3 separate regions of the Homo sapiens genome follow, and all the other regions are linked to region 1. Evidence: fine-mapped expression QTL. A gene starts in region 1. Each other region holds a variant in brackets. All regions are shown on one strand. Distances are between the middles of the regions.

What was found. PIP is the estimated chance that this variant, and not a neighbour inherited with it, causes the effect.
Region 2: its variant is fine-mapped to the expression of RPN1 in blood mononuclear cells (TOPMed, PIP 0.94).
Region 3: its variant is fine-mapped to the expression of RPN1 in whole blood (TOPMed, PIP above 0.99).

The regions. Positions count from the first base shown.
Region 1 is chr3:128,645,833-128,656,132 of GRCh38, forward strand. It overlaps RPN1 (ribophorin I), which reads right to left and starts at 4,986. Exons shown (of 10, transcript NM_002950.4): 1 at 4,708-4,986. The coding sequence starts at 4,968. RefSeq lists enhancers at 1-97, 4,210-4,279, 4,950-5,219, 5,380-5,459 and a silencer at 4,430-4,699.
Region 2 is chr3:128,602,173-128,612,472 of GRCh38, forward strand. No RefSeq gene overlaps it. Among named protein-coding and RNA genes, the nearest start is that of LINC01565, 31 kb to the left of the region's middle. RefSeq lists enhancers at 636-1,135, 6,456-6,635 and a silencer at 6,246-6,445. The variant CA/C (reference allele first, on the strand shown) is at 4,964.
Region 3 is chr3:128,617,998-128,628,297 of GRCh38, forward strand. It overlaps RPN1 (ribophorin I), which reads right to left. Exons shown (of 10, transcript NM_002950.4): 6 at 8,736-8,835; 7 at 7,877-8,015; 8 at 7,537-7,656; 9 at 4,167-4,412; 10 at 1,972-2,596. The coding sequence ends at 2,414. Among named protein-coding and RNA genes, the nearest start is that of RPN1, 28 kb to the right of the region's middle. RefSeq lists enhancers at 1-112, 1-417, 133-182. The variant G/A (reference allele first, on the strand shown) is at 6,796.

The DNA.
Region 1 (10,300 bases):
CACACATACACAAAAAGATTACACTTCCAAATATACTTCCCAAAGGCCTCTTTCTTGATGCTTTTCTCATTTACATTCAAATAAGCATACTCAAAGAAATGTATTTAGTGATGTAATAGAAAAGTCTCAGGGCTGGGCGCAGTGGCTCACACCTGTAATCCCAGCACTTTGGGAGGCCAAGGTGGGCGGATCACGAGGTCAGGAGTTCAAGACCAGTCTGGCCAATATAGTGAAACCCCATCTCTACTAAAAAAACAAAAAATTAGCCGGGTGTGGTGGCGTGTGGAGGCTGAGGCAGGAGAATTTCGTGAATCTGGGAGACGGAGGTTGCAGTGAGCTGAGATCGTGCCATTGCACTCCAGCCTGGTCGACAGAGTGAGACTCCGTCTCAAAAAAAAAAAAAAAAAAAAAAGTCTCATGGGTTTTTATTTTTGTAGAGACAAGATCTCCCTATGTTGCCCAGACTGGTTTCGAACTCTTGGGCTCAAGCGATCCTCCCACAGATTACAGGCACGAGATACCACGCCCAGCCTAAAACTGTTTCTTCACTAATATAAAAGTTAAAACTGGGCAGGCATGGTGGCTCACGCCTGTAATCCCAGCACTCTGACAGGCAGAGGAGGGGTGCGGATCACCTGAGGTCAGGAGTTCGAGACCAGCCTGGCCAATATAGTGAAACTTCATCTCTACTAAAAAATACAACAATTAGCTGGGCGTGGTGGCAGGTGCCTGTAATCCAGCTACTTGGGAGGCTGAGGCAGGAGAATTGCTTGAACCCAGGAGGTGGAGGCTGCAGTGAGCCATGACCATGCCACTGCACTCCAGCCTGGGCGACAAGAGTGAAACTCCATCTCATAAAAAAAAAAGTTGGCCGGGTGCGGTGGCTCACACCTGTAATCCCAGCATTTTGAGAGGCCAATCACCTGAGGTCAGGAGTTTGAGAGCAGCTGGCCAACATGGTGAAACCCCATCTCTACTAAAAATAAAAAAATTAGCTGGGTGTGGTGGCAGGCACCTTTAAGGCCAGCTACTTGGGAGGCTGAGGCAGGAGAATCACTTGAACCTGGGAGGCAGAGGTTGCAGTGAGCTGAGATCGTGCCACTGCACTCCAGCCTGGGCAACAGAGTGGGACTTCCTCTCAAAAAAAAAAAAAAATGGTTAACAGTGGCAAAATACCCTTGGGGAGGAGCCAATGACCACTGTTTGGGGTACCCTCACAGCAACAAGATACATAACCAGGAAAAGGATGTTCACTCCAGCAGGCTGCAGGGGTTTTCTGAGAAAGAGTAGTTATCTCCAATCATAAGACTGTGGAGCAGACTGCAAGGGAGAAGGGTATACATATCCCACTGATCTCTCTGCCAACCCACCCTCAACTGAAAAAAACAAAAATTAGACTATCTTTTAGGACTGAAGTAGTGATTCCCAGTAAGATACAAAAAGCTGTATTGGAGAACTTTTAAAATATATCAAAAAGCCTAAAAACAATCATACAATCATCCTCAATAAAGCTGTACAGTCTAATACAAACAAGTTTCATTACTTTGACTAGAATCTTATCACAGTGGGAATATTCCAGCCAGGCCAAGTGCAGTGGCTCACACCTGTAATCCCAACACTTTGGGAGGACTGCTTGAGGCTAGGTGTTGAAGACCAGCCTGGGCAACACAGCAAGACCCCATCTCTGAAAAAACAAAAAATTGCTCTTAATTAGCCAGGCGTAGTGGTGCGCACATGTAGTCCTAGCTACTCAGGGGGCTAGGTGGGAGGATAGCTTGAGCCCAGAAATTCGAGGCTGCAGTGAGCTCTGACTGGGCCACTGTGCTCTACCCTGGGGAACAGATTGAGAACTTGCCTCAAGAAAAAAAAAAAAAAAAGGAACATTCTAGTATATGTGTGTGTATCAGGAACTCTCATTGTGTTCAGTTATACAGACTTATTTGTTTTATTGAAAAATATTGTTACTTAATAAAATATTAGCATGCCAAAATATTTCAGATACAGGATCCAAAAGAGAGGAAAAATCATTAGATGGGTCCTTGGTGGTAAAAAGAGAAGCAACCACTGGCTCCTAGTCAGTAACCACCATGGTCCCTTCTGCTAGCTCCTAAAATTCTACAAGGGTTTGAAAATAACCCACTGAAGGCCAGGAATGGTGGCTCACGCCTGCAATCCCAGCACTTTGGGAGGCCGAGGCAGGTAGATCACCTGAGGTCAGGAGTTCGAGAGCAGCCTGACCAATATGATGAAACCCTGTCTCTACTAAAAATACAAAAATTGGCCGGGCGCAGTGGCTCACACCTGTAATCTCAGCACTTTGGGAGGCCGAGGTGGGCGGATCATGAGGTCAAGAGATCAAGACCATCCTGGCCAACATGCGTGAAACCCTGTCTCTACAAAAAAAATACAACAATTAGCTGGGCGTGGCAGCACGCGCCTGTAGTCCCAGCTACTCCGGAGGCTGAGGCAGGAGAATCACTTGAACCTGGGAGGCAGAGGTTGCAGTGAGCCGAGATTGCACCACCGCACTCCAGCCTGGCGACAGAGCAAGACTCTGCATCAAAAAAAAAATACAAAAATTAGCCAGGCGTGGTGGCATGCACCTGTAATCCCAGTTACTCCAGAGGAGAGACAGGAGAATTGCTTGAACCCAGGAGGCAGAGGTTGCAGTGAGCCAAGATAGCGCCATTGCACTCCAGCATGGGCAACGAGAGTGAAACTCCGTCTCAAAAAAAAAAAGAAAAAGAAAAGAACCCACTGAAAAACATTTCAGCAACCTCATCAGTTTCCAACACAACTGTTGGAAAATATACATCTCCTTGTTAAGTTTATCATCCAGTTGTTTCCCACTGGGATAGGAGTACAAAATAGCACATATATCCATTTAACTGGTGTCTTGGACTACAAAATTGAAAATGATTTTAAATAAATCTGTTAATGTGACTGCAAGTCTTATACCCAATACAATCCTATCTCACAGCCATAAAAGCCAGAAGAGGCAACATTATACAGTGTGAGAACACACAACTTACGGAATAAGCTGGAGCCCTGACTTACTCTGCACTGTAAGACCGCATGTAAGGGGCTAAATAACTTAACCTGACAGACTACAGCCTCCTTGCCTGCTATATGAGGATTTATACCTTAAATGGTTGCTATGAGGGCTAAATGAGAATATATTTAAAATACCCACCATAATATCTGACACACAGTAGAGTCCCAGTAAGAAAGTATCTTACCACAGAAACAAACAAACTAAAGGACAAAAGGAAACTTCTGGAGGTGACAGATATGTTTATTACCCGGATTGTGGTAATGGTTACACCAGTGTATACGTATTTTGAATATACTAATAATAGGCAGTTTTTTGTATACCAATTATACCTCAATAAAGTTGGGAGAAAAAATAAAAACAAGATAAAATAAGTACATTAACCTAGCTCGCAGGCATGATGGCAGGATAGCCGAGCTCCTGCTGTGGTCCACTTATACTGTAACAAGCTCATTAAATCACAACTGGCTTCTATAAAGAACGGGATTTAACATTCAAGACATTCAAAGATGGCAAGGCAAATTTACATGAAGTTTTGATCTATCTTTCCACAAGCCTTTGAGTAAAACTTTATTTCATCATGGACAACGCATGAAAGAAAATAGGAGTCATTTCAGAAACGTAATCTCTATAAACCCATCTTTATAGCTCCATATTCAGTCAGAGAACGAAGTGTGCTTAGAAGAAATGTGACACTATAATGACTATTCTCTCAACAAATAATTAGGTAATCATTTAATGAAATTGTTTAACAACAATAGTAATAAAAACCAAACCTCTGTGTATGTACATTCCCTTTACTCCCAAACCCAACATTTTCTTTGGTGATCACTGAAATACCTGGAAACATTTAAGCCAAACACAGCCATTTATTGCCGAGGTGTAAGAATGAGAAGCAGCAGGGGGAAGGGAGAAAATTGGACTTTCCTTTTCTGTACAGCATAAGAGAACTTATATTACGTGCAGGAGTTTTAAAACTAACTTTAAAAAGAGTTTTAACATTTAGAAAGCGTTCACTAGGAACCTTAAAATGCATCACATTCATAGGGATTTCAAGTGATTACCAACTTAAAAATGCGAAACCTGTTACATTTCTGATGGTTCTCTATGTCTAGAAAGAAGCACCTACAACGGACCAGATACTGAATTAAGAGAATGAAATTCACTTTAATTCATTTATTTGTCCTCTACTTGAGCCACCTCGTCGGGCCGTGAGAAATGAAGTCTGGCGCCCGCTGGCACCGGGCCGAGGGGCTGCCGCGCTCGCCTTACGGAAGGGAGGTGCGTTCTACCGGCCCGAGGTCTCCCGAGCGGTGCCGAGAACGGCCCAAACAGGGGCAAGCTCCGAGGCTGGTCGGCCGCGGATCCCAGCAGCTGCCCACGTGAGCAGCGACCCGCGCGGGGGCAGGCCGGTGCTGACGTGGCCCAGGCAGGAGGGCGGGCGCGCACCGGGGGCAGCGGAGGCGCCGGGGCCCCTGGCCACCCAGGACTCCTCGCGGGCCCCGAGGCAATCCCACGGACCCCCTGTGCCCCGCCCGCCGCCCGGGTCTCCGCATTTCCTGAGGCCTAGAGGGGCGCGGGCGGAGTCGGGGGACCGCCAGGAAGGGAGGCGGGAAGGGTCCCGGGAGCGGCGGCGAGGGGTCGCCCACACTCACCTGCACGCCCAGGTGCGCCAGCCGGGCCTCGAGCTCAGGCTCCAAAGCCAGCAGGAAAGAGGTAGCTCGGGACGTGGAGCCGCCGCCCAGGTGCGCCAGGACCACCTCGGCCGTCACCTTAGCCAGGTGGCTGCTTAGGTCCACTGTGCGCTTCACGTCCTCATTGATCAGCGGCGGTGCCTCGGAGGAGGCGCTGCCCGGCGCCGGGGCCCAAGTCCCAAGCAACAGGAGCAGAAACAAGCCGGCGGCTGGCGCCTCCATGACCGGGAAGAGCAGTGCGCCAGGGCGGGTAGGGCCCGGGCGCGGTAGCCCGCCCTCCCGCCACTGAGCAGCCGTTCATTGGGCAAGGGCTGGTGACACAAGATGGCGGCGCCGAACAAGGAAGGACCCTGTCTCCGGGGCAACCGGGAAGCCGACCCGGCGCCTGATTGCTAAAGCCCTCTCAGAGCTGCTCGGGATATCCTTCTGTTCGTAGTGCGAGTGTACTTACTTTTTTTTTTTTTTTTTTTTTTTTTTTTTTTTTTTTTTGAGACGGAGTCTCGCTCTGTCGCCCAGGCTGGAGTGCAGTGGCACGATCTCAGCTCACTGCAAGCTCCGCCTCCCGGGTTCACACCATTCTCCTGCCTCAGCCTCCCGGGTGGCTGGGACTACAGGCGCCCGCCACCACGCCCGGCTAATTTTTTTTTATATTTTTAGTAGAGATGGGGTTTCACTGTGGCCTCCATCTCCTGACCTCGTGATCCGCCCACCTCGGCCTCCCGAAGTGCTGGATTACAAGCGTGAGCCACTGCGCCCAGCCGCGAGTGTACTTATTATTACTAGTTTTCACTTACCTAATTTTTACAGGAGCGGCCCTTGCCTAGGTCTCTACTCTCTCCTACCATTCTTCCTGTCCAATAATTCTGCTCGTTTTGCTCCTTAAAACAGTGAAATTTTGCTCAGATTGAGAAAGTAAAAGTTGGCCTTCCCCAACATCCACGGATGAATGCTAAAATTAGTAGGCAGAACTTGAAGCCGAAACAGGATATATGCAAAGTTTCAAAACATCTCTACTAAAATGTTTAGTAATTAGGCCGGGCACGGTGACTCACGCCTGTAATTCCAGCGCTTTAGGAGGCCGAGGCGGGTGGATCACCTGAGGTCAGGAGTTCGAGACCAGCCTGGCCAACATGGTGAAACCCCGTCTATACTAAAGATACAAAAAATTAGCCGGGCGTGGTGGCAGGCGCCTGTAATTCCAGCTACTTGGGGTGGCTGAGGCAGGAGAATCGCTTGAACCTGGGAGGCGGAGGTTGCAGTGAGCTAAGATCGCGCCATTGCACTCCAGCCTAGGCGACAGGGTGAGACTCCTTCTCAAAATAAATAAATAAATAAATAAAATAAAATTAGCCGGGTGTGGTGGTGCGTGCCTGTAATCCCAGCTACTCCAGAGGCTGAGGTACCAGAATCATTTGAACCCGGGAGGCAGGAGATGCAGTGAGCCAAGATCGTGCCACTGCACTCCAGCCTGGGCGACTGGGCGAGACTCCCTCTCAAAAGGAAATTAAAAAATAAAAATAAAATGTTTAGTAATTACAAAGGAAAAAATAGTTTACAGTGGAGAATCCTGGCAGGCACCACTTTAAACAAGTGATCAAAGTTAACATCACCACATATAAAATATAGTAACATTAGGTATCTACTAATAGGATCCATTGAGAAAGGCACATCACTTCTGTGGTATTGCCACAAAATTATTGAAAATCCATTACCTCAATCTAGTCATAAATATCAGACAAGGCCAGGCACAGTGGCTCATGCCACCAATCCCAGCACTTTGGGAGGCCAAGTAGGGAGGATCCCTTGAGCCAAGGAGTTCAAAACTAGACCGGGCAACAGGGTAAAACCCCATCTCTACAAAAAATCAAAAATCAGCCGGGCCTGGTGACAAGTGCCTGTGTTACAGGAAAGGGGTCTGGATCCTGACCCCAAGAGAGGGTTCCTGGATCTCACGCAAGAAAGAATTCAGGATGAGTCCGCAGTGCAAAGTGAAAGCAAGTTTATTATTTTTTATTTTATTTATTTATTTATTTGAGATGGAGTCTCGCTCTGTTGCCCAGGCTGGATTGCAGTGGCGCAGTCTTGGCTCACAGCAACCTGTGCCTCCCGGGTTCAAGCAATTCTCTGCCTTAGCCTCCCAAGTAGCTGCGATTACAGGCGCCCGCCACCACGCCCGGCTAATTTTTGTATTTTTAGTAGAGACGGGGTTTCAACATCTTGGCCAGGCTGGTCTTGCACTCCTGACCTCGTGACCCACCTGCCTCAGCCTCCCAAAGTGCTGGGATTACAGGCATGAGCCACCGCCCCCAGCCAGCAAGTTTATTAAGAAAGTAAAAGAATAAAAGAATGGCTACTCCATTGACAGAGCAGCCCGAGGACTGCTGGTTGCCCATCTTTATGGTTATTTCTTGATGATATGCTATACAAGGGGTGGATTATTCATGCCTCCCCTTTTTAGACCATATAGGATAACTTCCTGATGTTGCCATGGCATTTGCAAACTGTCATGGCGCTGGTGGGAGTGTAGTAGTGAGGACTCATTGCCATTTTGGTTTTGGTGGGTTTTGGCCGGCTCCTTTACCGCAACCTGTTTTATCAGTAAGGTCTTTATGACCAGTATTTTGTGCCGACCTTCTATCTCATCCTGTTGAGAGGTGACAGCGTGCGCCCTCCCTCGCTCTCGGCGCCTCCTCGGCCTTGGCGCCCACTCTGGCCGCGCTTGAGGAGCCCTTCAGCCCACCGCTGCACTGTGGGAGCCCCCTTCTGGGCTGGCCAAGGCCGGAGCCGGCTCCTTCAGCTTGCAGGGAGGTGTGGAGGGAGAGGCGCGAGCGGGAACCGAGGCTGCGCACGGCGCTTGCGGGCCAGCTGGAGTTCTGGGTGGGCCTGGGCTTGGCGGGCCCCGCACTCGGAGCGGCCGGCCGGCCGGCCCTGCCAGCCCTGGGCAATGAGGGGCTTAGCACCCCGGCCAGCGGCTGCGGAGGGTGTGCTGGGTCCCCCAGCAGTGCCGGCCCACGGGCGCTGCACTCGATTTCTCGCCGGGCCTTAGCTGCCTCCCCGCAGGGCAGGGCTCGGGACCTGCAGCCCGCCATGCCTGAGCCTCCCCCTCCTCCGTGGGCTGCTGTGCGGCCCCAGCCTCCCCGACGAGCGCCGCCCCCTGCTCCAAGGCGCCCAGTCCCATCGACCACGCAAGGGCTGAGGAGTGCGGGCGCACGGCCGGGGACTGGCAGGCAGCTCCCCCTGCCGCCCGGGTGCAGGATTCACTGGGTGAAGCCAGCTGGGCTCCTGAGACTGTTGGGGACTTGGAGAATCTTTATGTCTAGCTAAGGGATTGTAAATACACCAATCGGCAGTCTGTATCTAGCTCAAGGTTTGTAAACACACCAATCAGCACCCTGTGTCTAGCTCAGGGTTTGTGAATGCACCAGTTGACACTCTGTATCTAACTACTCTGGTGGGGACTTGGAGAACCTTTGTGTGGACACTCTGTATCTAGCTAATCTAGTGGGGACGTGGAGAACCTTTGTGTCTAGCTCAGGGATTATAAAGACACCAATCAGCACACTGTCAAAACAGACCTCTCCCCTCTCTGTAAAATGAACCAATCAGCAGGATGTGGGTAGGGCCAGATAAGAAAATAAAGGCAGGCTGCCAGAGCCAGCAGTGGCAACCCGCTGGGGTCTCCTTCCACACTGGAGAGTTTGTTCTTTCGCTCTTGGCAATAAATCTTGCTGCTGTTCACTCTTTGGGTCCACGCTGCCTTTATGAGCTGTAACACACACCACGAAGGTCTGCAGCTTCACTCCTGAAGCCAGCGAGACCACAAACCTACCGGGAGGAACGAACAACTCCAGACGCGCCTCCTTAAGAGCTGTTAACACTCACCGCGAAGGTCCTCCGCTTCACTCCCGAGCCAGCGAGACCACGAACCCCACCAGAAGGAAGAAACTCCGAACACATCCAAACATCAGAAGGAGCAAACTCCAGACACGCCACCTTTAAGAACTGTAACACTCACCGCAAGGGTCTGCGGTTTCATTCTTGAAGTCAGTGAGACCAAGAACCCACCAATTCCCAACACGCTGTGACTTAAAATGCCTTAACTGTATGGGAATGCAGCTCACAGGTTTCAACCTCGTTTTACCCAGTTCCTATTCAGGATGGAGTTGTTGTCGTTCACATGCCTCTGACACCTGTAGTCTCCGCTACTTGAGAGGCTGAAGCAGGAGGATCACTGGAGCCCCGGAGATCAAGGCTTCAGTAAGCTATGTTCATGCCGCTTCAGCCTGGGTGACAGCAAGACCCTGTCTCAAAAAACAAAACAAGGCTGGGCATGGTGGCTCATGCTTGTAATCACAGCACTTTGGAAGGCCAAGGCAGGAGGATTGCTTGACCCCAAGGAGTTTGAGACCAGTCTGGACAACATAGCAACATTCTATCTTTACAAAAAATATTTTAAATTAGCCTAGTGTGGTGGCATGCCCCTGTAGTCCCAGCTACTCAAGAGGCTGAAGTGGGAGGATCACTTGGGCCTGGGAGGTTGTAGCTGCAGTGAGCTGTGATCATGACACTGCACTCCACCCTGGATGACAAAGTGAGACTTTGTCTCAAAAAAAAAAAAAAAAGAAAAAAGAAGGCCGGACGCCATGGCTCACGCCTGTAATCCCAAAACTTTGGGAGGCTGTGGCAGGCAGATCACCTGAGGTCAGGAGTTCAAGACCAGCCAGGCCAACATGGTGAAACCCCGTGTCTACTAAAAATACAAAAAATTAGCCAGGTATGGTGGCACACACCTGTAATTCCAGCTACCTGGGAGGTTGAGGCCGGAGAATCATTTGAACCCAGGAGACAGAAGTTGCAGTGAGCCAAGATCATGCCACTGCACTCCAGCCTGGGTGACAGAGCAAGACTCCATCTCAAAAAAATAGTAATAATAAAAAAAATAGATAAAATCAGACAAACCAAAATTGAAGAAAATTCTACAAAATAACCGACTCTTCAAATATTAATCCTTCTTACCTCCATGTCTCCTCATAGGTTGTATGTGCACCTGATTTTCCTTGTGGGAAAGGAGAACACCAAGGTTCCCTCCATTTCTTCCCCATTGATGACTTCCAGAGTGACTGGGGTGTTGCAAGTCTCAGTAAAAAGCTCTAGAAAAGTGTTTCCACATAGTCAAGTAAACGTGAGAAATACCACACTGCACATCAGCAGATTAGCGAAACCTCCTTATTCCCTAATTTTGGAAATATAGAACTAACCAGATATCACAGGAAACAAAAATACTGAGCCCACCAAATGCACATGGAAGAATGTTCAGAACAGTTCCTTCACACTCCAAATTTCTGTTATTATCTATATTAGTCAAAACTCAGCCAGGCACAGTGGTTCGCACCTGTAATCCCAGCACCTTGGGAGGCTGAGGCAAGCGGATCACGAGGTCAAGGGATCGAAACCAGGCTGGGCGCGGTGGCTCACGCCTGTAATCCCACACTTTGGGAGGCCTAGGCGGGCAGATCACAAGGTCAGGAGTTTGAGACCATCCTGGCTAACACGG
Region 2 (10,300 bases), 44 kb before region 1:
TGGGACTGTGGATGTGAGCTCCCCTGCCCGGCCAAAAGTTTAAAAATAAAGAAAAGAATGAGGCAGAAAAACATAACCAATATACGCAATCTCCAAAATAACAGGTGAAGCCCAGGTACCACAGGCTGAATGGCTGTGCACTCTGGTCCTGTCTATGGAAGAATTCACACAGCCTTGGATCTCAGCCCACAGGTGCGCAGGACCCCAGGAAAGCTTGCAAAATGGCTGTGGGGGCAGGGGGAGCATCTCATTAAAGGGACAAGAAAAAGCCATCATCGGGGTGGAGAATGATTTAAATGGCCTTGGGGAATTGCCGCAAGCTCTGTATCCCTCATAGCCTTACCACAAGGACAGGAGTCCTGGGTTTCTCAGGCCTCCTGATTTCAAAAGTTCCCTCCCCAACTCTTGTTGATACCCTCAGCCAGCTGGGGGTCCCAAAGTGGGCTTGAAAAATGTTTAGACGAGGGCCTTGTCCTCCCCTACCCTCTGCCCAAGAGGGACAGCGCTGTTATCCCAGATTCAGGCCCTGGAGCCCATCCCCACTGGCTGGGCAGTCTGAGTTTGGCTTGGGCCAGCAGAGCCCCCGGGTGCTCCAGCCCAACTTTGGCCATGCTGCCTAAGAGCGTCTTGCTAAACAGACGGCCTGGAGTCCTAGACCCTTGTGGGAACTGGAGCCTGTGCCAGCCTGGGGGCCCGGATCTCCTTCCTCCCAGTGCGGGGCCTAATCACTCATGGTCAGCAGGAGGCCTGCAGAGGGAGAGACGAGATTGGCCCTCCAATCCCTGCCTCTGGGAAAGGTGGCTGGGGCCAGGTTCTGGAGAAAGGACCTGGAGCTTCCAGGAAAGTTTAGGAAGCAGAGGGGGGACCCCTTGCCCTGCCAATTCAGACCACTCTCACGAGTTGGGGCCAGAATAATTAAGCGGCTTCCTCTGGCGCCTACTCTGAGGGGTCGGTAATGATGTCCAGCACTGTGATGAGGAGGATTCTGAGGCACCGTCCATGATTGAAGGAAGGAGCTCCTTGGAGATGTTGCCACCTTCGCCACAGTAGAGGACGGGTAGTGTGCAGATGTCTGCCACCCTGGAGGTAGGGTCTCTCCTTCCCCCAAGTTCTATGCATGATCTCAAGTATAGAGGGGTGGGGAGGTGTTATCAGGAGAATGATTCATAGTATTGCTCTCATTACGGTACAGCTCCCAGTCATGGAGCACCCACTTTCAGCCAGGCACTTCATAGATGCTGCCCTGTAGTAATCCTGAAATGCTAAGAGAATCGGCAAGGGCACGCATCTTGCCGATCTCTGAACATTTGCTTAATGGGGGCTGGGCATCATGATCCCATTTTACAGCTGGAACAACTGAGACTCCAAGCACCTGCCAAGGCCCCACGCTGGTAGGAGTGGGCCCCAAACCTGGGTGCCCTCTCGAAGGTACCCTCAAAGCCAGGGCCTGGCCTCCCGCTGCCTCTCCTAAGCCCCCACTCCAGGCCTGAGCTCCCCTGCTGATGGGGGGCAGGGGACACGCCATCTGTCTGCAGAGGCAGGGGTGCCACTGGGGGGGACATGCCACCCCCACAGGCAGTGGACGGGGCCTCCCTGCATCCGTTACTTGCCCCCTGCCCAGACTCTGCCCACCGCACAGCAGTGATAGATAGTTTGTGAAATACCCTGAGCTTGCGGTTGACCAGAATTCTGAAATAATTCCATTGAGACCGGAATTCATGCAATGTTCTGTATCCTGATGTGGTAAAGCAGGCTGCCCGCGGGGGCGCAAGGGGATGTGAAGGCCTGGGGATGGTGAGGCAGCCTCCAGGCCCTGCAGCAGGGGCTTCTGCCACCCCCCCTCGCCCACGGGCTCCGGAAGGCCCATCTGACAGGAGCAGGGCCCTGATAAGCACCACCTGACCAGGAGGCCCCCGGCAGAGAGATTAATGCACAAATTGTCAACAACCTCCCCATGCTGTACCCCCGCAGAGGAGCAGGGCGGGGGGGCACTGGGAAAGGAAGGACAGAGGAGGCCTCACCCGGAGAGAGGCAAAAGGACAGCTCAGCCCGGCCTTGCCCTGCGGCCTCAGCCTGGCTGCCCCACCTGCGCCAGCCGGGCTCTGGACACCTGGAGGGGGAAGAGGCCAAGGTGTGAAGGCAGGCTTGTATCATGGGCCAGTCTGATGCCCAGGCAGGTCCTGGCTGTGCAGGAGGGTGGGAGGGAGCTGCTGCCTGCTGAGCCTCCTCAGCCTGGAAGCTCCCCAAAGCCAGAGCTGACTCCAAACCTCCTGGCCCAGAACCCTGCGCTCCAGTCCCTGGCCCTGCCAGCCCCCAAGGTGGCTTCCCTGGAGGAAGACATGTGTTTCTCCTTGGCGAGCACTTCTCTCAGTGCTGCAGAGTGTCCCTGTGTTTCTGCAGCCAGGCAGGACTGGACTTGGCAGAGCACAGCAGGACTGCAGGAGGAGGCTGGGGGTTGCTCTGGGGTCATCATATTCAGGACCACACACGGTCGACAGGCTCAGGCCAGTGAAGTTCCCTCTCCTCATGGGACAACCAGAAGCTCAGGGGCAGCCTGGTGGGTTTTCTATAAAGCAAAATGCAGCCATTGAAAGGGCTGTCCTGGGTTCTGCCATTAGGAACTTCCTATTTCTTAGGTGGGGGAAACTTTTCTCTAAAGCAATGAGGGTACCAGCAAATCAGAGACATAAACTGAGGGCCACTGGCATACGGAGCTTGCTGCATGGGTTACCAGGTTTTTATTTTCTTTAAGTCCATTCTTTCAGGCTGTATTTCCAGCTTTGCTTTGGAAGCTCTGGCCACTCTGAGCCCACATTCCTTCGTGGCCCTATGCCTGGAGCTGAGCAGGGGCCACCCTGAAACAGGCCCACCCACTTCCCACCCCTGCTCCTCTCTGCAGTGAACAGAACAGTGAGGATCCAGAGTGTGAACCCCATGGACCGGGAGGAGTATGTGTCCCACAGGACAGCACTGGGGTTCACGCTTCTGCAGAGTCCCCAGCCTGGGGTCCGTCTCAATCATTCTCCCACCTCTGCTGGGAAACTCAGCTGCTGCAGTCACTTGTCATGGACTATTTTCATGCAGGTCCATCTTCCTCATTAGGTTGCCAAGGACATGGGACACAGGCTTAGGGGCCCCGGGGTTCGGGGACAAGGAGTGAGGTGAGGCTGCACAGACCTGAGTGCTCAGTTGAACCCTCTGAACCTTTTCAAGAGATCTGGAAAATTCTACTGTTCTTTTTTTTTTTTTTAAGAGGCGGTTTTGCTCTGTTGCCCAGGCTAGAGTGCAGTGGTACAAACATAGCTCACTGTAACCTCGACCTCCTGGGCTCAAGCAATTGCACCTTGGCCTCACAAATAGCTGGAACTACAGGCATATACCGCATGCCTGGCTAATTATTAAAATTTTTTGTAGAGATGAGGTCTCCCTCTGTTGGCCAGGCTGAACTCCTGGGCTCAAGCGATCCTCCCACCTCGGCCTCCCAAAGGTCTGGGATTATAGGCATGAACCTCTGTGCCAGATGGGAAAATTATATTTTTTAAGTAATATCTCTCAGGTTTTAAATGTTGAAAATGAATTCATCTTTCAGTAATGATAATAATATTCTATAAGGAAAAGAAAATACATCTGCCAGCTAGGAGATGGCAGCCTCCAATTAGGAGCAAGGAGGTTCACCAGATCCCATGCTATCTGGTCAGTTGGTGTCAGGAGGGAATAAAACTATCCCATGCAAAATTTTCTGATCATCTTTTCCAGCCCGGCCCAGGACTGATTCCAGCACCTACCTAAGTCAGATCCTAGCCAGTCCTCAGGGAACTAGGTATGGAGCAGTGGACAGAGAAGGATAATTAAAGCAATATAGTGTGACATCCTGTAAATGAATGGAGACTTTCCAGAGGAATTCACAAGAAATTGCTAACACTGTGTTTCTCTGGAAGAGAAGCTGGTAGGAAGCCGGAGATTCTGCTTGCCTCTGTATACCCTTCTGATCTGTCTGGATCCTTAGTATGAGCATGTGTTAACTCTTACAATTGGGATTTTTTTTTTTTTTTTTTTGAGATAAGGGCTCACTCTGTCACTCAGGCTGGAGTGCAGTGGTGTGATCTCAGCTCACTGCAACCTCAACCTCCTAGGCTCAAGTAATCCTCCCACTTCAGTCCCCTGAGTAGCTGAGACTACAAGTACTCGACTCCGTGCCCAGCTAATTTTTACATTTTTAGTACAGATGGGGTTTCATCATGTTCGGCAGGCTGGCCTCGAACTCCTGAGCTTGAGCGATCTGCCCACCTCAGCTTCCCAAAGTGCTCGGATTACAGGCATGAGCCACCACGCCTGGCCTTTTACAATTTTTAAAATCTCTCTTTGTTGTTACAAACAGGGTCTTGCTACGTCACCCAGGCTTGCCTCAGACTCCTGAGCTAGAGCGATCCTCCCTCCTCAGCCTCCCAAGTAGCTGGGACTATAGGCCCATACCACTTTTACAATTTTTAAAACACAGAAACATTTTGTAATGAATCTGGATATAAACAGATGTGGTGATACCATCACAACATTGTAACCCCAGTGCACAGAGACCCCAGCAAGGCAGTAACCATGTCTATGAGAGGGAGAAGGAAAGTAGCACTTAAGCTTTCCCAGGAGTAACCCTGGGGGTGGGTTTTAGAGAATGAATAGGAGTTTTTCAGCGGGGCGCGGGGGCTCACACCTGTAATCCCAGCACTTTGGGAGGCCGAGGCAGGCAGATCACGAGGTCAGGAGATCGAGACCATCCTGGCTAACACGGTGAAACCCCGTCTCTACTAAAAACACAAAAAATTAGCCGGGCGTGGTGGCGGGTGCCTGTAGTCCCAGCTACTCGGGAGGCTGAGGCAGGAGAATGGTGTGAACCCAGGAGGTGGAGCTTGCAGTTAGCCGAGATCGTGCCACTGCACTCCAGCCTGGGCTACAGAGCCAGACTCCATCT[CA/C]AAAAAAAAGAGAATGAATAGGAGTTTTTCCAGGCAGACAAGAAGGAACACTTCGAAGACCCAGGACACCAGTAGCTGTGGGGATCACTGGGGAAGGTTTTGTGGCATTTGTGGAGGTGTTAAGCCTTGAAGGAGGGGAGAATCGGAGTGAGACGGGGGTTAGGGTAGGGAGTGTAGCACAGGCATGGACACAGCACAATGCCAGGGACAGTGGGATCTGGCTGCAGCTCCAGGAAGGCCATCTCCCTGATGTCAGGGAGGGGTGAAGACCTAGGTTCAAGTCCAGGTTCTCCCAATTACTTGGCGTGAAGCCTTGAATTTGCCCTATCCATGCCCCGTTCGCTCACCTGCTAAAGCAGGGATGTGTAGCAGGGCGTAATGGCGCACGCCTGTAGTCCCAGCTACTCAGAAGGCCGAGGCAGGAGGATGGCTTGAGCCCAGGAGTTTGAGGCCACTCTGACCAACATAGCCAAACCACATTTCTAAATAAGTAAATGGAAGCGTGGAAGTTGTGCCCTACTGAGAGTGTGTATGAGAAGCACCTGAGAACCACAGCTAATGAACTGCCCACAGGCTGTGAGGAGTTTGCACCGGTCCTCATTGCCTTGCTCAGGGTCAGCCCAGGAGAGGGGCCGCCCCACCCAACGCTGCCACACAGGCTGGGAAAAGCCATGGCTCTCCAACGGGCATCCACACTCCCGGCTAAGCAAAGGCTCTGCAAAGCTGGGGCCAGACAGCCACTCAGTGTCTGCTGTTTCCTCTGGCCCTGAATCGCAGGCCGCGCTGGATGGCTCTGGTGCCAAAGGGTGGCCTCTGAACAGGAACCTCGGCCTGGGAATGTCCCTGGGACCCCACAGGACCTGACCCGGAGCCACCACTAGAAGCCGGAGCTCCCAGGCCAGGGCTGCGGGAATGGCCCCGGGTCCTCTGCCCAGGGCCTGCAGGTGCTCCAGGTCAGCGGGCGACTTTGGCCGCTGCAGAGACCGAGATACGCGGGGTAACAGCCCGTTCCGGAGCCGGTCATCAGGCGCCAAGCCCCGCTGGGCTCCTCGCAGCCGCGGGACCTTTCTCCGCCCTTCCCGAGGCTGAGTTTCCTGAACGGGAAGCTGCCGGCCCGCGGGGCAGCCGGGAGCAGCCAGGGCGTGAGGACGTGGGTTCCCGTCACCCCCGGCTTGGAACAGCAGCGCCGCAACAACCGCTGGCGTTCATCGAGCCTCTCAGCAGCCCTGCGAGGCGATCCCGGGGAGAATCCCACGCCACAGCCGAGGAAACTGAGGCAGGCAGGGTGACACACAGCCCAGTAGTGGCGGGCGGGCGCCCAGGCTGCCACCGCGCTGAGGACCGGCCCCTCTGCCAGCCGGGAGGTGCGCGTGGCCTAGGCGGGGGCGCCCTCTGGCGGCCGCGGGTTCCAATCCCTGCCGGCCTCGCAGGCGTGGGGCAGGACAGCCGCGCTCTCGCCAGGGCCCAGAGCCCCACTTTGCCAAGGAGCTGTCGCTGGAGCGGTGACTTTGTTCAGGGCCGAGAACCGGAGGAGGAGGCCAGACTTGCTGCTGGGCAGCTGGCACATGGGACATGGGGTGTTATGACTCCAGCATTTATGGAGCGCCTGCTGTGTGCTCTGCAGGTATAGTCCCATGACCACCCCCCGAGCATGGGGTTATCTCATTCTTTTTTTTGGGGGCGGGGGGGACGGAGTCTCTCTCTGTCGCCCAGGCTGGAGTGCAGCAGCGCGATCTCGGCTCACTGCAACCTCCGCCTCCCAGGTTCAAGCGACTCTCCTGCCTCAGCCTCCTGAGTAGCTGGGATTACAGGTAGGCACCACCACGCTAATTTTTGTATTTTTAGTAGAGGTTTCACCATGTTGGTCAGGCTGGTCTCGAACTCCTAACCTCATGATCCACCTCCCTCAGCCTCCCAAAGGGGTTATCTCATGCTATGGATGAGGCCCTGAGGCTCAGAGACCCGTCTGACTCTAAAGCCACCCATTAGGACTGACCCCAGACAGCCCCTTAATAGCCACTGGGTTCCACTGTGGCCAGGGGAGTGTGGCATGAGGCAAAAGGGACCATTTCCCCTCTGAAACATGAGCTGAACTAGATCAGTGTTTTGCCAGCATTCAGGTCCACCTTGCAGCATGTGCAGGACGCACCTATCACCCGTGTTCATATTCACATCCTAACGCCAGGCCTACACAGTACTGACCATGGGCACCACCTGACCGCTGTCAGCTTATTTGAGGATCACACCAACAACCACGCTCTTGTTAGAAATTAATATGACCCCGTTTTATGAATGGAAAATGGAGGCTCAGAGCAGCTGAGCACCTTTCCACAGTCACACAGCCAGGTGGCGTCAAATCCAGCAACCCAACCCTGGCCACCGGCTCCCGGCCTCTGCGAGGTGGAGCTTCCAGCTAATCCAGCTCCACTCTGCTCAAGCCATTTTTCTTTTTTTTTTTTTTAAAGAAATGAGGTTCACTATGTTGCCTCGACTAGTCTTGGTTCCGGTACTCAAGCTGAGTATGGGAATTAAAAGCATGAGCCACCACCCAGGCCTATATTCTTTTTTACAATTTATCCCTAAACGAAACTTTGTATCTCTGACATAAGTGGAAAATCACTTTCACATGGCTAAATACAGGTAGCTGTAAAAATCAAATACAATTTATGGCCAGTGCTGTGGCTCACACGTGTAATCCCAGCACTTTGGGACGCTGAGGCGGAAGGGCCACTCGAGCCCAGGAGTTTGAGACCAGCCTGGGCAGCATAGTGAGACTTCATCTCTTAAAAAAGAAAAAAATAAATCAAATACAATTTACATCAAATAAAGTGATCCAGTTCTGACCAGAGAGAATGGTCAGCAGAGAGTCTGGCATTCTAGACAGGGTTCCATTTCCATTGAAGAGGTTTCTGTGTTACAAGCAAGTGAACTGGTGGGACACTGCCTGGTTTTCTCCTGAATCCCACCCCACTGCGGCACAGATCTCACTCCCCATACCCCAGCAGCACCTCCTCCCAATCCCCAGCCTCTCCACTGCAACATGAAGCATGGAAGAAAGATGAAGGTGTGTGTGTCACTCGCTGTAGAGTGCTGAGAGACGCAGGGAAGACAGAGGCATAGGTGTCCGTAATTGGGGTGCAGGTGGTGAGACACGGGGAAGATGGTGGTGTGGGTGTCCATCTCTGCTGTGAGGTAGAGGGCAGACCCCATGTAGATCTAGGGTCATGAGTTAGCCTTGATATATGAGTGGTGACTTACATGACAACTGAAACCAGTGCCATGGTCTGAATGCATTTATCCCCCCAAAATGTACCTGTTGATGTCCTAATTCCATAGTGATGGTATCAGGATGTGGGGCCTTTTGGGGGTGACTAGGCCATGAAGGAGGAGTGCTCATAATTGGGCTCCAAGCCCTGATAGCAGAGCACTGGCTCGGCACGCCAACTTCTGCCTGCGAGGACACAGTGAGGACACCGGCAGGCTGCATCCCGGAAGACAGCCCTCTGCAGAGCCCGCCCCTGCTGCCACTCTCATCTTGGAGTTACCACCCTCCTGAACTGTGAAAAAGGAATGTGTGTTGTTCTAAGTACCCCGATTGTTGTTATTTGTTATCACAACCTGAACAGACTAAGACAGGCAGCATGAGCATGTGCTCTTGATCGACATGGACACAGATAAATGAAAACCCACCACACATTCCCCAGGGTGTACACACACCTGTCCCCATGCGTCTCACACAAGATGCGCTGGAGGTAGGAAAGGGGAGGGAAATTGGGGCTGGGAAGCAGGAAGACGCAGCGAGCCCAGAGGGCATGGTGCCCTGATCTGATGAAAAAGATAAAAATAGAACGAACTAGAATCAAATGCCCCGCATAGGGCCCGGCCAATTCTAACCCTCAAGCCCCCCACACCCAGCTGTGGACCCTGGGACAGCCACTGTATTATCTGCGCCTCTGCCTGTCCACTGGGGGCCCTGCGGGCAGGACTGCTGTGTTGCCTCTGTGCCTGGCCCATGGATGTCTGACTATGGGTCTCTGTAAACACGGGGGCAATGTCCCCAGTCCCTCAGAGCAGCCACACCAGATGGGCCTTCCAGACTGGCTCTGTCAAGACCTGAAATTCCCAAGTCCTTAAAAGGCTGCAAATCCTCCCCCCACTCCACAAAGACAACACACAAATAAATCATAACTGCTGTGTCCTAAGCACATCGTGTGTGCCTGGATTTTACACACATATTTGTCATCTTCACAACGTAAGTAATATTTGGTCCATTCTTTGAATGGGGAAACAGGCAGAAAGAACTTAAATGACTTGCCTCAAAGTTACCCAGCTGGCACAAGCAGGGTTCAGGTCCAGCTAGGCCTGATCCCACCTTCTGCCCTCTTCTGACAGCCCCAGGCTGCCTCCCACCACACACAACACACACACACATGCATGCACACACACATGCACTTGCACAGCCACATGACATGTGCAAGGACACACACATATACATATACACAGACACACACATGCATACACAGAGACACACAGACACACACACACATGGGTCACAGCCCAAAATAACACCTTCCTGGAGCTAACGCCTCTCCTTCCCCCTCACCCCGAGTGTGTATGGATTCCTCCAGCCCAAGCCTCCCTCCCCAAATCACCCCTCTCTAGCCCTGTCAGATTCAGAAGGATCTCCTCCTCAGGTCAGCCTCCATCTCTGACAAATCCCCCCACCCCATCCTCTGGTCCTGCTCCCCCAGGGCTCCCAGCACCTGGCCCAGTGGACCAGCTGCAGGCCACACCTCTCTACTGGTGGAGAGGGAAACCCTGGGCTCTCGGGTAGAGCTGCGGGTGCTGGTGGTGGGTGGCCATGCCTTCGTCCATGTCCATCCAACATGCACTCCCTGTGTGCCTGGACCCCACTCCCTCTCCTCCAGGCCTTTGTGCCATGCACAAGCTCCAGGCCTGGGGCCCCATCCTGATGGAGAGAAGTGGTCAGGAAAGTGGGCAGGCCTCAGGGCTTCAAGCCAGGCCCCAAGAGGCAGAGGGGAGAGTGACAGGACCTGGAGCTGAGACTTAGGAACGTGACAGGTGGCCAGTGTGGTGGCTCATGCCTGTAATTCCAGCACTTTGAGAGGCTGAGGTGGGTGGATCGCTTAAGCCCAGGAGTTCAAGACCAGCCTGGACGATATAGCAAGACCCCATTTCTACTATTTAAAAAATATGTATATAATTTTTTTTCTTTTTTTTTCCAGAGTCTCGCTCTGTCGCCCAGGCTGGAGTGCAGTGGTGCAATCTCAGCTCGCTGCAACCTCCACCTCCTGCGTTCAATCGATTCTCCTGCC
Region 3 (10,300 bases), 28 kb before region 1:
AGGTGGTATGCAGCCGCGGTAAAGCAGGGCCCCTCCGTGAGGCACAGCCGCCCGGGGGTTCCCTAGGGGAAGCAGGGGCTGCGGCAGACGCCTCTCGGGCAGGTCAGGGTATGCACCCTCCCGCAGGGGCTCCCAAGGCCGGGCGTGCGTGAGGCCAGGTCCACGGGCACACCACTGTGAACACTGATTAAACGTGGCCTCCACGGCTTCCAACCCCCAGGACAGGACCAACCCTCTGCCCCCGGCTCAGGCCAGAGCTCGGCGAGACCGTCGCTGTTTAACAAGCATTTGCTATACGCCACCTTGCATTATGACAGCATGTGACCCACACAGCCATCCTAGGAAGCAGGTAACAGCCCTACTCCATTTTGCACGGAAAGACTTGCCTGAGGTCACAGAGAGCGGCAGGCCTGGGATTTCCATCCAGGGATCCGACTGCAGAGCACGACTCTGGAGGGTCTTCCTTCTTGCTCCTCCCATCCTTCCACTGTCCTTGGATCCCCCATTTTCCCCCTGCACAATCTCCTAATCCCTATGTTCAACTTCTCATTTTCAACTGGATCTTTCCCAATGGCATTCAACACACTTGGTGTCCCCAACCTTAGAGTAGAACATTCAAGCAGCACAGCCTCCTGAAGGCCCTCACTCATCCCTTTCCCAGCCTGTTTGCGAAATGCTTTGTCAGGACTCAAAGTTAAGTCTCACTTCCGTCCAATTCCCATCCCCACACCAACACAGTTCTCAAGTCACCAATGGGTAAAAGGCTTCAGTGATCCACTCCTACAGCCAAAAGGCACTGCTCGGTCTCTTCAGCCTCAGATGGTTCACTCCTGGAAACATTTTTCCACTTGGCTTCATGACACCACAGTCCTGGTCTTTCTCGTCCCAGGTAAGGAGAGTCCTGGTCTTTGTCAACCCAGGTGGCCACTATTACTTTGTCGTCTTAATATTCAGTTCTGGATCTCTTCTTATTCTATACCCTTCCTAGGCACTGTCCCCTCCCACAGCCTCCTTCTCACCTTTTCCATAACCATGTCTAGGCCCGGCAGCCCCACATTTACCACTTGCACACCAGACCTTATAATTCCAGGCCTGAATATCCACCTGCCCAGGGACACTCCCACTTGGATGTCCCGAGCACCTCCATTTTGCCATGTCTGAAACAGAATTCAGCATCAGTTCCTCACAACTGGTCTTCTACAGACTTCCCCAGTAATCCCTCAACCCACCTGCCAATATTTAAGCTGTTTGTAAGCCACTCATGCAAACATTCAATAACCCAACTACGTGTCATAGATTGGTCTGAACACCTAGCTGTTAACATAAAGATGAGCATAAAAGACAAAACCCCTGCCCTATTGAAGCTAGTTCAGTAATCACACACATTCCAACCGTGGTATATGAGGTGGAGAAGAGGTACAAAGGAAAACGAGAGGGTACCACAGGACTTGACTGAGTGTGGCAGGCCACGGATGGCTCCCTGACACAGTAACCTTAAGTAACACATCCTGAGGCTGAGCAGGAATTCATTAGGTGGAGACAGGGAGCGAACTCCTGCAGAGAGGAAAGAGGGGCAGAAAGCCTGGCACTCACTGGCACTGTCGATTCCCCACATGACCTTTCAATCCCTTGCCTCTTGAGAGGAACCATCTCTGCTTTGCTCATCACTGTTTCCTTGATGCTGAGTAAAACATGACTCACAGGAAGGATGCAAAAACTACAAAAATGGAGGCCTCACTCCACTACTCCATTCTGTGACATAAGCCACGTCAACTCTTTCAACACTCTGGCACCACTTTCAACACTCTGGTACTAGAATAACTCAGTGTTCTAATATGTAAAATGTAAATGCTTGCCTTGCAAACCTGCTGAGAAGCAAATCCATTATTTAATGAATAAAAAGCACTTGATAAAAGCACTATTCCCAAAATTAAGAATTAAATTATGAGAGATCTTCAACAGACCAAAAACAAATGTTCACAGTCCCTGCTTTATTTCCATTTGTTCACACACGCTTTAAAAAAAAAAAAAAAAACACATGCACTCACACAATACCCAAACATCAGAATTAGAAGGGCATAAAACAGGGGGCTTTATAGGCTGAAAAATATCTTAGACTTCAGAACAGAATACCAATCAAATATTGAAAATTCCTTTGTTCAAAACACAAAGATGTTTTGTTTTTAATGGGAGTTTTTTTAAAGTTTTCTTTTTTTAAAAAAAAAAAAAAAGAAAGTTAAGGACAAACGGCAAACTCACACTGCCTGACGCAGGGCCTGGTTTCTCTTCCTTGAAGGCCTTTTACAGATGTCAGCTTTCACTGGCCTCCATGCACAACCTCCCACTACCACCCAATCTGCCTGCCACAGCAAAGTGCAGGCACCCTGGGCCCCCTGGAGGATGCGGGCAGGGGCTACAGGGCATCCAGGATGTGGTCGATCTTGGTGACCAGCTCCTGGCGCTTTCCTGAGATGAGCTTCTCATTCTCAATGTACGTGTCTTTCTTGAGCTTGCCAGCCACCAGGCGCTCAGCCTCCACCGCCGACTTCAGCACCAGCTCCTTGACCTGTGCATCCAGCTTCTGCATTTCGCTCACCTGGCCGAGGCAAGAGCAGGGCAGGACTTGTGAGCTGTCCTCCCACCCCACTCAGCAGGCCCCACCATCTCCCAGGCCTACAGACCCCAGAGCTCCACAGGTATCAGCCACAAATGCAGCCAACAGCACAGTGTCCCAGGGCAGCAGGGCTGGCTATGGAGGAAGATAGGCCTGGCTTCAAATGCCAACTTCACCACCCACAAGCCCCGTTCTTACGCCCTTGTGAACAAGCCCTGCACCATCCCTGGGCCTCATCTCCATTCTAGGACTCTGAGGACTGAGTATGAAACTACTTGGCAGCACCTATCATGCCCCTGGCACATAGCAGCTCCTCTATGAACATCACTTCTCTCCTTGCAGCTTGTCAAATCAGTTCCAGGGATTCAATTAGGCAAAAGATCAATGGCAAGGGAAGGGGGGGTGACAGGCATTGTCACCTACTGTACGTCACATTGAGGACTGGTATAGTCACATTCATTCAACATTCAACAAATGTTTAGTGAGCCATGGCGCGCGGCACAATTCTAGGTTCCAGAAAACAGCACTAAGGACAGATAAGGGATCTTGTCCACAGATGCTGACATATAATTAACACTTAAGTAGAAGAATAAATCGTTTCAGAAAGTGGTAGGCGTGGGCCAGACACGGTGGCTCACATCTGTAATTCCAGTACTTTGGAGGCCAAGGCAGGCAGAACACTTGGGCTCAGGAGTTCAAGACCAGCCTGGGCAACATGGCGAAACCCCATCTCTACAAAAAATTAGCCAGGCATGGTGGTGTGCACCTGTGATCCCAGCTACTTGAGGTGGAAGGATCGCTTGAGCCTGGAGGTGGGGCTTGCAGTGAGCAGAGATTGCGCCACTACACTCCAGCATGGGCGACAGAGTGAAACCCTGTCTCAAAAACAAACAACAAAAAAAGTGGTAGGTGCTATGAGGAAATTCACACAGAGTGAGGAGAGGGAATGCCAGGGAGTGGACAGGGGAGTCAGTGACTCTGAGGGGCACCTCTGCGAAAAGGTTACTGTCCTCATTTACAGATAACTCCTTTACATAGCTTGTATCAGGACAGGGTTCTGAATATTTTGCATGCATTAACTCATTTCACACTCAGAACCCCTATGAGGGGCTAACAGCATTCCCATTTTATAGATGAGGAAACTGAGGCACAGAAGTTAGGTGACTTGGCCAGGTTTACAAACTCTGAATCAGAGCCTGGATTCAAACCTATTGATTCTAAAGTCTAGGTTCATTTTACCACAACATAAGCAGCCTGGGACCTAGAACAGTCTGGCCTCCAGGAGAGGATGCAGCTACTCTCAATACTGGCCACAAGGGCACGCAGTGCTGACGAGGCTAGCAGAGCTTCCTCCACACCCAGCTCACACCAGGACCCCAAAAATCCCTTTTTCCTCCACAAGGACTGGCACCACATGAAAAGTTATGGCCAGATGCAGTCTTATCCCACAAGCATGCAGGTAAGCAAGAGAGCTGCCCAGTGTCTGCCCTAGACAAAGCAGTGAGGCATGGAGGGCCCCAAGCCAAGCAACTCTGTGACGCCCGACACTTACTCTGTCGCACAGATCAGAGCCCTCTGTCTTCAGCCTGGACTGCAGCAGTGCAATCTCACTGGTCAAGGCCTTGTGTTCAGTCTCCAGGCTCTTCTTGCCACTGTTGAGGGTGGAGATGTCCCGGGATTGCTTGTACCTATTGACGGTCTCGTCAAAGTGACGGTAAAGGCCTATTCTCTTGTTGACCAGGGTCAAGACCTGCTCTGTGATGCAGGCTACCTTCATCCTGGCTTCTGCGGCTGGATCCTGAAGGAAGGAGAGGCACCATGTGTGACAACATCCAGGCTTGGGTCCACTCTGACCTTATCTCCCAAAGAACATCTGCCACCAGCAGCCATCCAAAAATGAAATGCCACCTTCTTGGAAAGTCAAAGTCAAACCCCTACTGATACCTAATCTGGACCAGGTTCAGCAATGGGCAAAACTAGGGCCATAAAGATGAGCAGACCAGCCGGGCCTGGTGGCTCACGCCTGTAATCCCAGCACTTTGGGAGGCCAAGGTGGGCAGATCACGAGGTCAGGAGTTCAAGACCAGCCTGACCAATATGGTGACATCCCATCTCTACTAAAAATAGAAAAAAAAATTAGCCGGGCATGGTGGCAGGCACCTGTAATCTCAGCTACTCAGGAGGCTGAGGCAGGAGAATCACCTGAACCCAGGAGGCGGAGGTTGCAGTGAGCCGAGATCGCACCACTGCACTCCAGCCTGGGCGACAGAGCGAAACTCCATCTCAAAAAAAAAAAAAAAAAGATGAAGCAGACATTTCACTTCACAGTCCAGTAAGGCAGACAGATAGATGTGAACAAGGATGATAATGTCAGTGTGCCCTGCATATATATTACAGCAGTCTTGCCCATTTAATCAGCAGGAAACATTAGATAAACCAAAATTAAGGGACATTCTATAAAACTGGTCTCTACAACACCACAAATGTCAAGGTTATTAAACACAAAGAAAGGACCAGGAATGGTGGGTCACACCTATAATCCCCACACTTTGGGCAGCTGAGGCAGGAGGATCACTTGAGGTCAGGCGTTCAAGACCAGCCTGGGTAACATAATGAGACTCCGTCTCTACAAAAAAATATTTTGGCCAGGTGCAGTGGCTCACACCTGTAATCCCAACATTGTAGAAGGCCGAGGCAGGCAGATTGCTTGAGTCCAGGAGTTCGAGACCAGCCTAGCCAACATGGCAAAACCCCATCTCTAATAAAAATACAGAAAATTAGCCGGGCATGGTGGTGCATGCTTGTAGTCCCAGCTACTCAGGGAGCTGAGATGGTAGGATCTCTTTAGCCCAGGAGGTCGAGGCTGCAGTGAGCCCTGATCGTGCCACTGCACTCCAGCCTGGGTAACAGAGTGAGACTCTGTCTCGAGAAAAAAAACATTTTTTTAATTAGCTGGGCATGATGGTATGCTCCTGTAGTCCCAAACTACTTGGGAGGATGAGGTGGGAGGATGGCTTGAGCCCAGGAGTTTGAGGCTGCAGTGAGCTGTGATTGATCGGGGGACAGTCAGCAAAATTATGGACTGGATGTTGGTCAACAGTACTAATTAACTGGCCAGTTAATAGTATTAACTAACTAATGGACAATTACATTACCCATTCTTTGAGGAAGAAGGCACAGAAGGCAGAACACACCACAAAGTTCTGAACGTGCTGTTCTACCAGATTTTTGGCAACATTACATTTCCTGAATTTGATCATTGTATTATGATTATGTAAGAGAATACCCTTGCTCTCAGGCTACACACATGCTCAACTATTCAAGGGTAAAGGGGCACAACGTCTGCAACTTAACCTCCAATGATTCAGCAGAAATAATTACACACACACACACGCACACACACACACACACAGTTATTCCTCGAGCCCCCGCCCCCCCGCATCTCCGACTATCTGCACATACTCAAGTCCTGTAGTCAGCCCTGTGAAACCCAAGTATACAAAAAGTCAGCCCTCCACATATTTGGTTTCAGTTCCCTCAAACACTGTATTGAGTACTGTATTTCCTATCTGCATTTGATTATAAAAATCTGACCAGGCACGGTGTCTCATGCCTGTAATCCCAGCACTTTGGGAGGCCGAGGCGGGTGGATCACGAGGTCAGGAGATTGAGACCATCCTAACACGGTGAAACCCCGTCTCTACTAAAAATACAAAAAATTAGCCGGGCGTGGTGGCACGTACCTGTAGTCCCAGCTATTCGAGAGGCCAAGGCAGGAGAATTGCTCGAACCCAGGAGGCGGAGGTTGCAGCAAGCTGAGAGCGCACCACTGCACTCCAGCCTGGGCAACAGAGCAAGACTCCGTCTCAGGAAAAAAAAAAAAGAAAACGAAAAGAAAAAAATCTGCATATAAGTGGACCCACACAGTTCGGCTGGATCAACATCTTTGCTCACAGGTCCTACCAAAACCCCTCCCTGCTGTCTCACAAACATCAGCCCCTCCAACTGAATGCCCTTCCCCACCTTCTTTGCCTGTCACCTCCTCAGGGTAGCCTTGGGGCCTCCCAAGTTGCCCCACTAGAAGCACACCCTTGGTGCGCACCTGTGGTCCCAGCTACACAGGAGGCTGAGGCAGAATCGCTCGAACCCGGGAGGCAGAGGTTGCAGTGAATGGAGATCGC[G/A]CCACTGCACTCCAGCATGGCAACAGAGCGAGACTCCATCTCAAAAAAAAAAACACACGCTGTGCCTGTCATCACATTCCACAGTCCTCAAGCACCAGCTGTGCTCATCTCCTCCACCAGGCCTCACCCACCTGACTACAATAAGTGCCTGGTACTAGTGCCTACCCTGGGGCATGGAGCCAAGAGCCCTAAGGAACAATGAGAGAATGAGAAATGGAGGAAGGAAGGAAGAAAAGAGCAAGAGGATGACCTGAGGATAACAGCAGTGCAGCCTGGGGAGGACCAAGGAGCCACGGAGCCTGTCAGGGAGCAGAGAGTGGGAGTGGGGAGAACGGTGCTGACAGGGCCAGGTCAGTGGTTTCTGCTCCCAACAAGGAATCACCAAGGGGGAGGTGGGGAGGGAGAGGGGACTAAGAGGGGACTTCCACCTCCAAGTTCCACTGAATAACAAGAAGCAAAACAGCTAAATAAGCACCAATCTTTTCATGTTTTTCCTACCTCAACTGAGCATCCAAGTTACTCTGTCTCCAGAGCCAAAGCAAGACAGAAGCAGGGACTTAACCTCCTGTGCTAGTGACCACAAGCAACAAAAACAAAGTACCCTTCCGGCAAGGATGAGCACAGGCAGGGGTCTTTTGGCCATGGCGTCCTGCCCTGGGCTCACTGTGAGGATCAGTGCTCAAGCTGGTGAAATATTACCAAGGACACAAATGACAAGCAGGAAGAAGGCAGAGACGGTACCTTGGTGATGGAGAAGTCCAGCCGAACATAGATGATAACGGTGAAGAACAGGATGTAGAAGGCCGCCACCACCAGCAGGGGCTCCTGCAGCATGAGCACCTTGTTGAACGTGTAGTGGACCTGGGAGAAGCAAGAGGACAGGCTTCATCGGGGCTGTAGGGACATGGGAGCCTAGACTCACCCAGGCTGGCCCACTCGACCTGCTGCCCCACCCCAAGACCAGAAGACGCCATGAGCTCAAATGACTCCAGCCCAAGGAGGGACAGAAGGTGAGTTCTTGGCCCCCAGAGCCCACTGTCTGGGGAAGACGCCATGGAAGGCAAACAGTGGAGCCACTCACCACAATGTCCTGAATGTGCTGTTCTACCAGATTTTTCTTGTAGGCAACAATCACAGGGCGGCCAAATGTGTCCAGATAGGTGTAGTGCAGCTCATCTGGGGCACGGCTGATTTCATAGGGACTATCAATTTCAATGTTCCTGGAAGAAGATGGGAATAAAATATAGCCTCCAACCAACTACATCAATAAACCAGATTTAGGATCAGAGAATTCCAAGGCTAAGGAGCCTTTCAAGATCACTAAATTCACACTCCTCCACTCTGCTCCCTTCTCAGCTATGGAGAACACCCACTCTCTTGAGACAGGGGAGCCAGTGCCAGAAAGCCCTTTGTTTTAAAGCCCTTGTCTGCTGGGGCAACAACTGTCCCTCTGAATCCTCCACTCCCAAGTTCTCACCAGTACTGGCCCCACTCCTTGGAGTCACAAAGTTGACACAGCTCTCCTGTACATCCTACCCAGTGAATCCCTGGGAGGCTTGAACAGATGCCTCACGAGCTGTTCTGAATGTTCTTTCTCTTCACATGAATAAGAGCTTCTTACGGGGCAGGGGACATGTCCTGCTTTTGTCTGCCCAGGCCCACTGTCCCTTCTCCTGGTAAACAGCACAGCCTGGATTTGCATGAGGAACTACTCTTCCACTATGGAACATTCTCCACAGGAAGAAAATCAAGGGGTCTCTCATTCTGGCAGTCAGAGTGGACATGTGACTCAAGAGAGGCCAAGTAGATGTTCCCTGATAAAGTAAATCTAGAGAAAAGTGACACAAAGACTGTGCCCCTAGAACATAGGCTCTCCTTAGGGTACCACAAGGGTACAACCAGAGAAATCGGGTGCAAAGGAGAGGAACAGTCACACTCACTTGGCTCCTTCAGGCAGGATGATCTTCACAGTCAGAGAATCTATCACTTGTTCATCAAACACATGGTCCACAAACCTCATCTTCAGTGCATACTGGTCACCTGAAGGATCAAGCAAGCATAAGCAATGATGTGGAAAACGGATCAAATGGGCAGGAGAGAAAGAAGTACAGGGGCTCACATAAAGACAGAGCAAGTAGACAGCAAAACCAAAAACCCACGGACCATGTTTACAACAAAACCAGGCAACAAAGTATCTCTACTGAACCCCACAACACAGAGACAGGGATGGGGGTCAAAACACCGACAGCCACAAGACCTTCACGTTATCAGTGTCTGTGAAGGAGAACGCAGAGAGAAGAAACAGGGCAACTGATGGGCTTGAGAACAGCAGAACCCCAAAACACACAACCGGGATTCCCTAGAGAGCACAGCAGGCCAGTGTGAGGAGTGGCTGAAACTCGGAGCAGTTGTGCCCTGCCTAATGGTGAGTGAAACGGGCCTGCAGAAGGTCTACGAGTCTGCAGCAGTCTAGTCCCTGAGAGCAGAACTCCCCTTCTGGGACAGTGCCCTACAGTGAGGAGAAACTGCTCAACACAATCAAAAATGAACATGATAGGGACAATGGAACTCAAAAACCGCACAGAGGAAAGCTCAGAAAGCAAGCCACATGTTTTTGCACTAAAATAGCAGAGATCTGGGAAGGTACAAAAGCCACTCTAAACCATCCCTCCTTCGGAAAGGTCACATTAAAAATGATCAACAGACAGTGGCTCATGCCTGTAATCCCAGTACTTTGGGAGGCAGAGGCAGGCAGATCACCTGAGGTCAGGAGTTCAAGACCAGCCTGGCCAACATGGTGAAACCCCATCTCTACTAAAACTATAAAAATTAGTCAGGTGTGGTGGCACATGCCTGTAATCCCAGCAACTTGGGAAGCTGAGGTAAGAAAATCACTGGAACCCAGGAGGTGGAGGTTGCAGTAAGCTGAGATTGTGCCACCGTACTCCAGCCTGGGAAACAGTGCAAGACTCCATCTCAAAAAAAAAAAAAAAAAAGATTAAGTTATATAAGAAAAATGGGATGAAAACAAGAACACCCCTGTAAGAAAATGAAAACATGCCAGCAAGACGCCCATAAAAACGAACCAGGAGACTGCTCCTGCTATTCCAAAACAAGCTAAAGGTATTAATAAAATCATGTAAGTCATGCAAGAACAATGTAAACAATAATTAGAAAAATTCAGGCCGGGCGCGGTGGCTCACTCCTGTAATCCCAGCACTTTGGAAGGCTGAGGTGGGTGGATCACCTGAGGTCAGGAGTTCGAGACCAGCCTGGCCAACATAGTGAAACCCCATCTCTACTAAAAATAAAAAATTAGCTGGGCGTAGTGGTGCATGCCTGTAGTCCCAGCTACTCCAGAAGCTGAGGCAGGAGAATCTCTTGAACCCAGGAGGCGGAGGTTGCAATGAGCTGAGATCGCGCCAATGCACTCCAGCCTGGGAGGTTACAGTGAACTGAGATCGCTCCACTGCACTCCAGCCTGGGCAACAAAGTGAGACAGAAA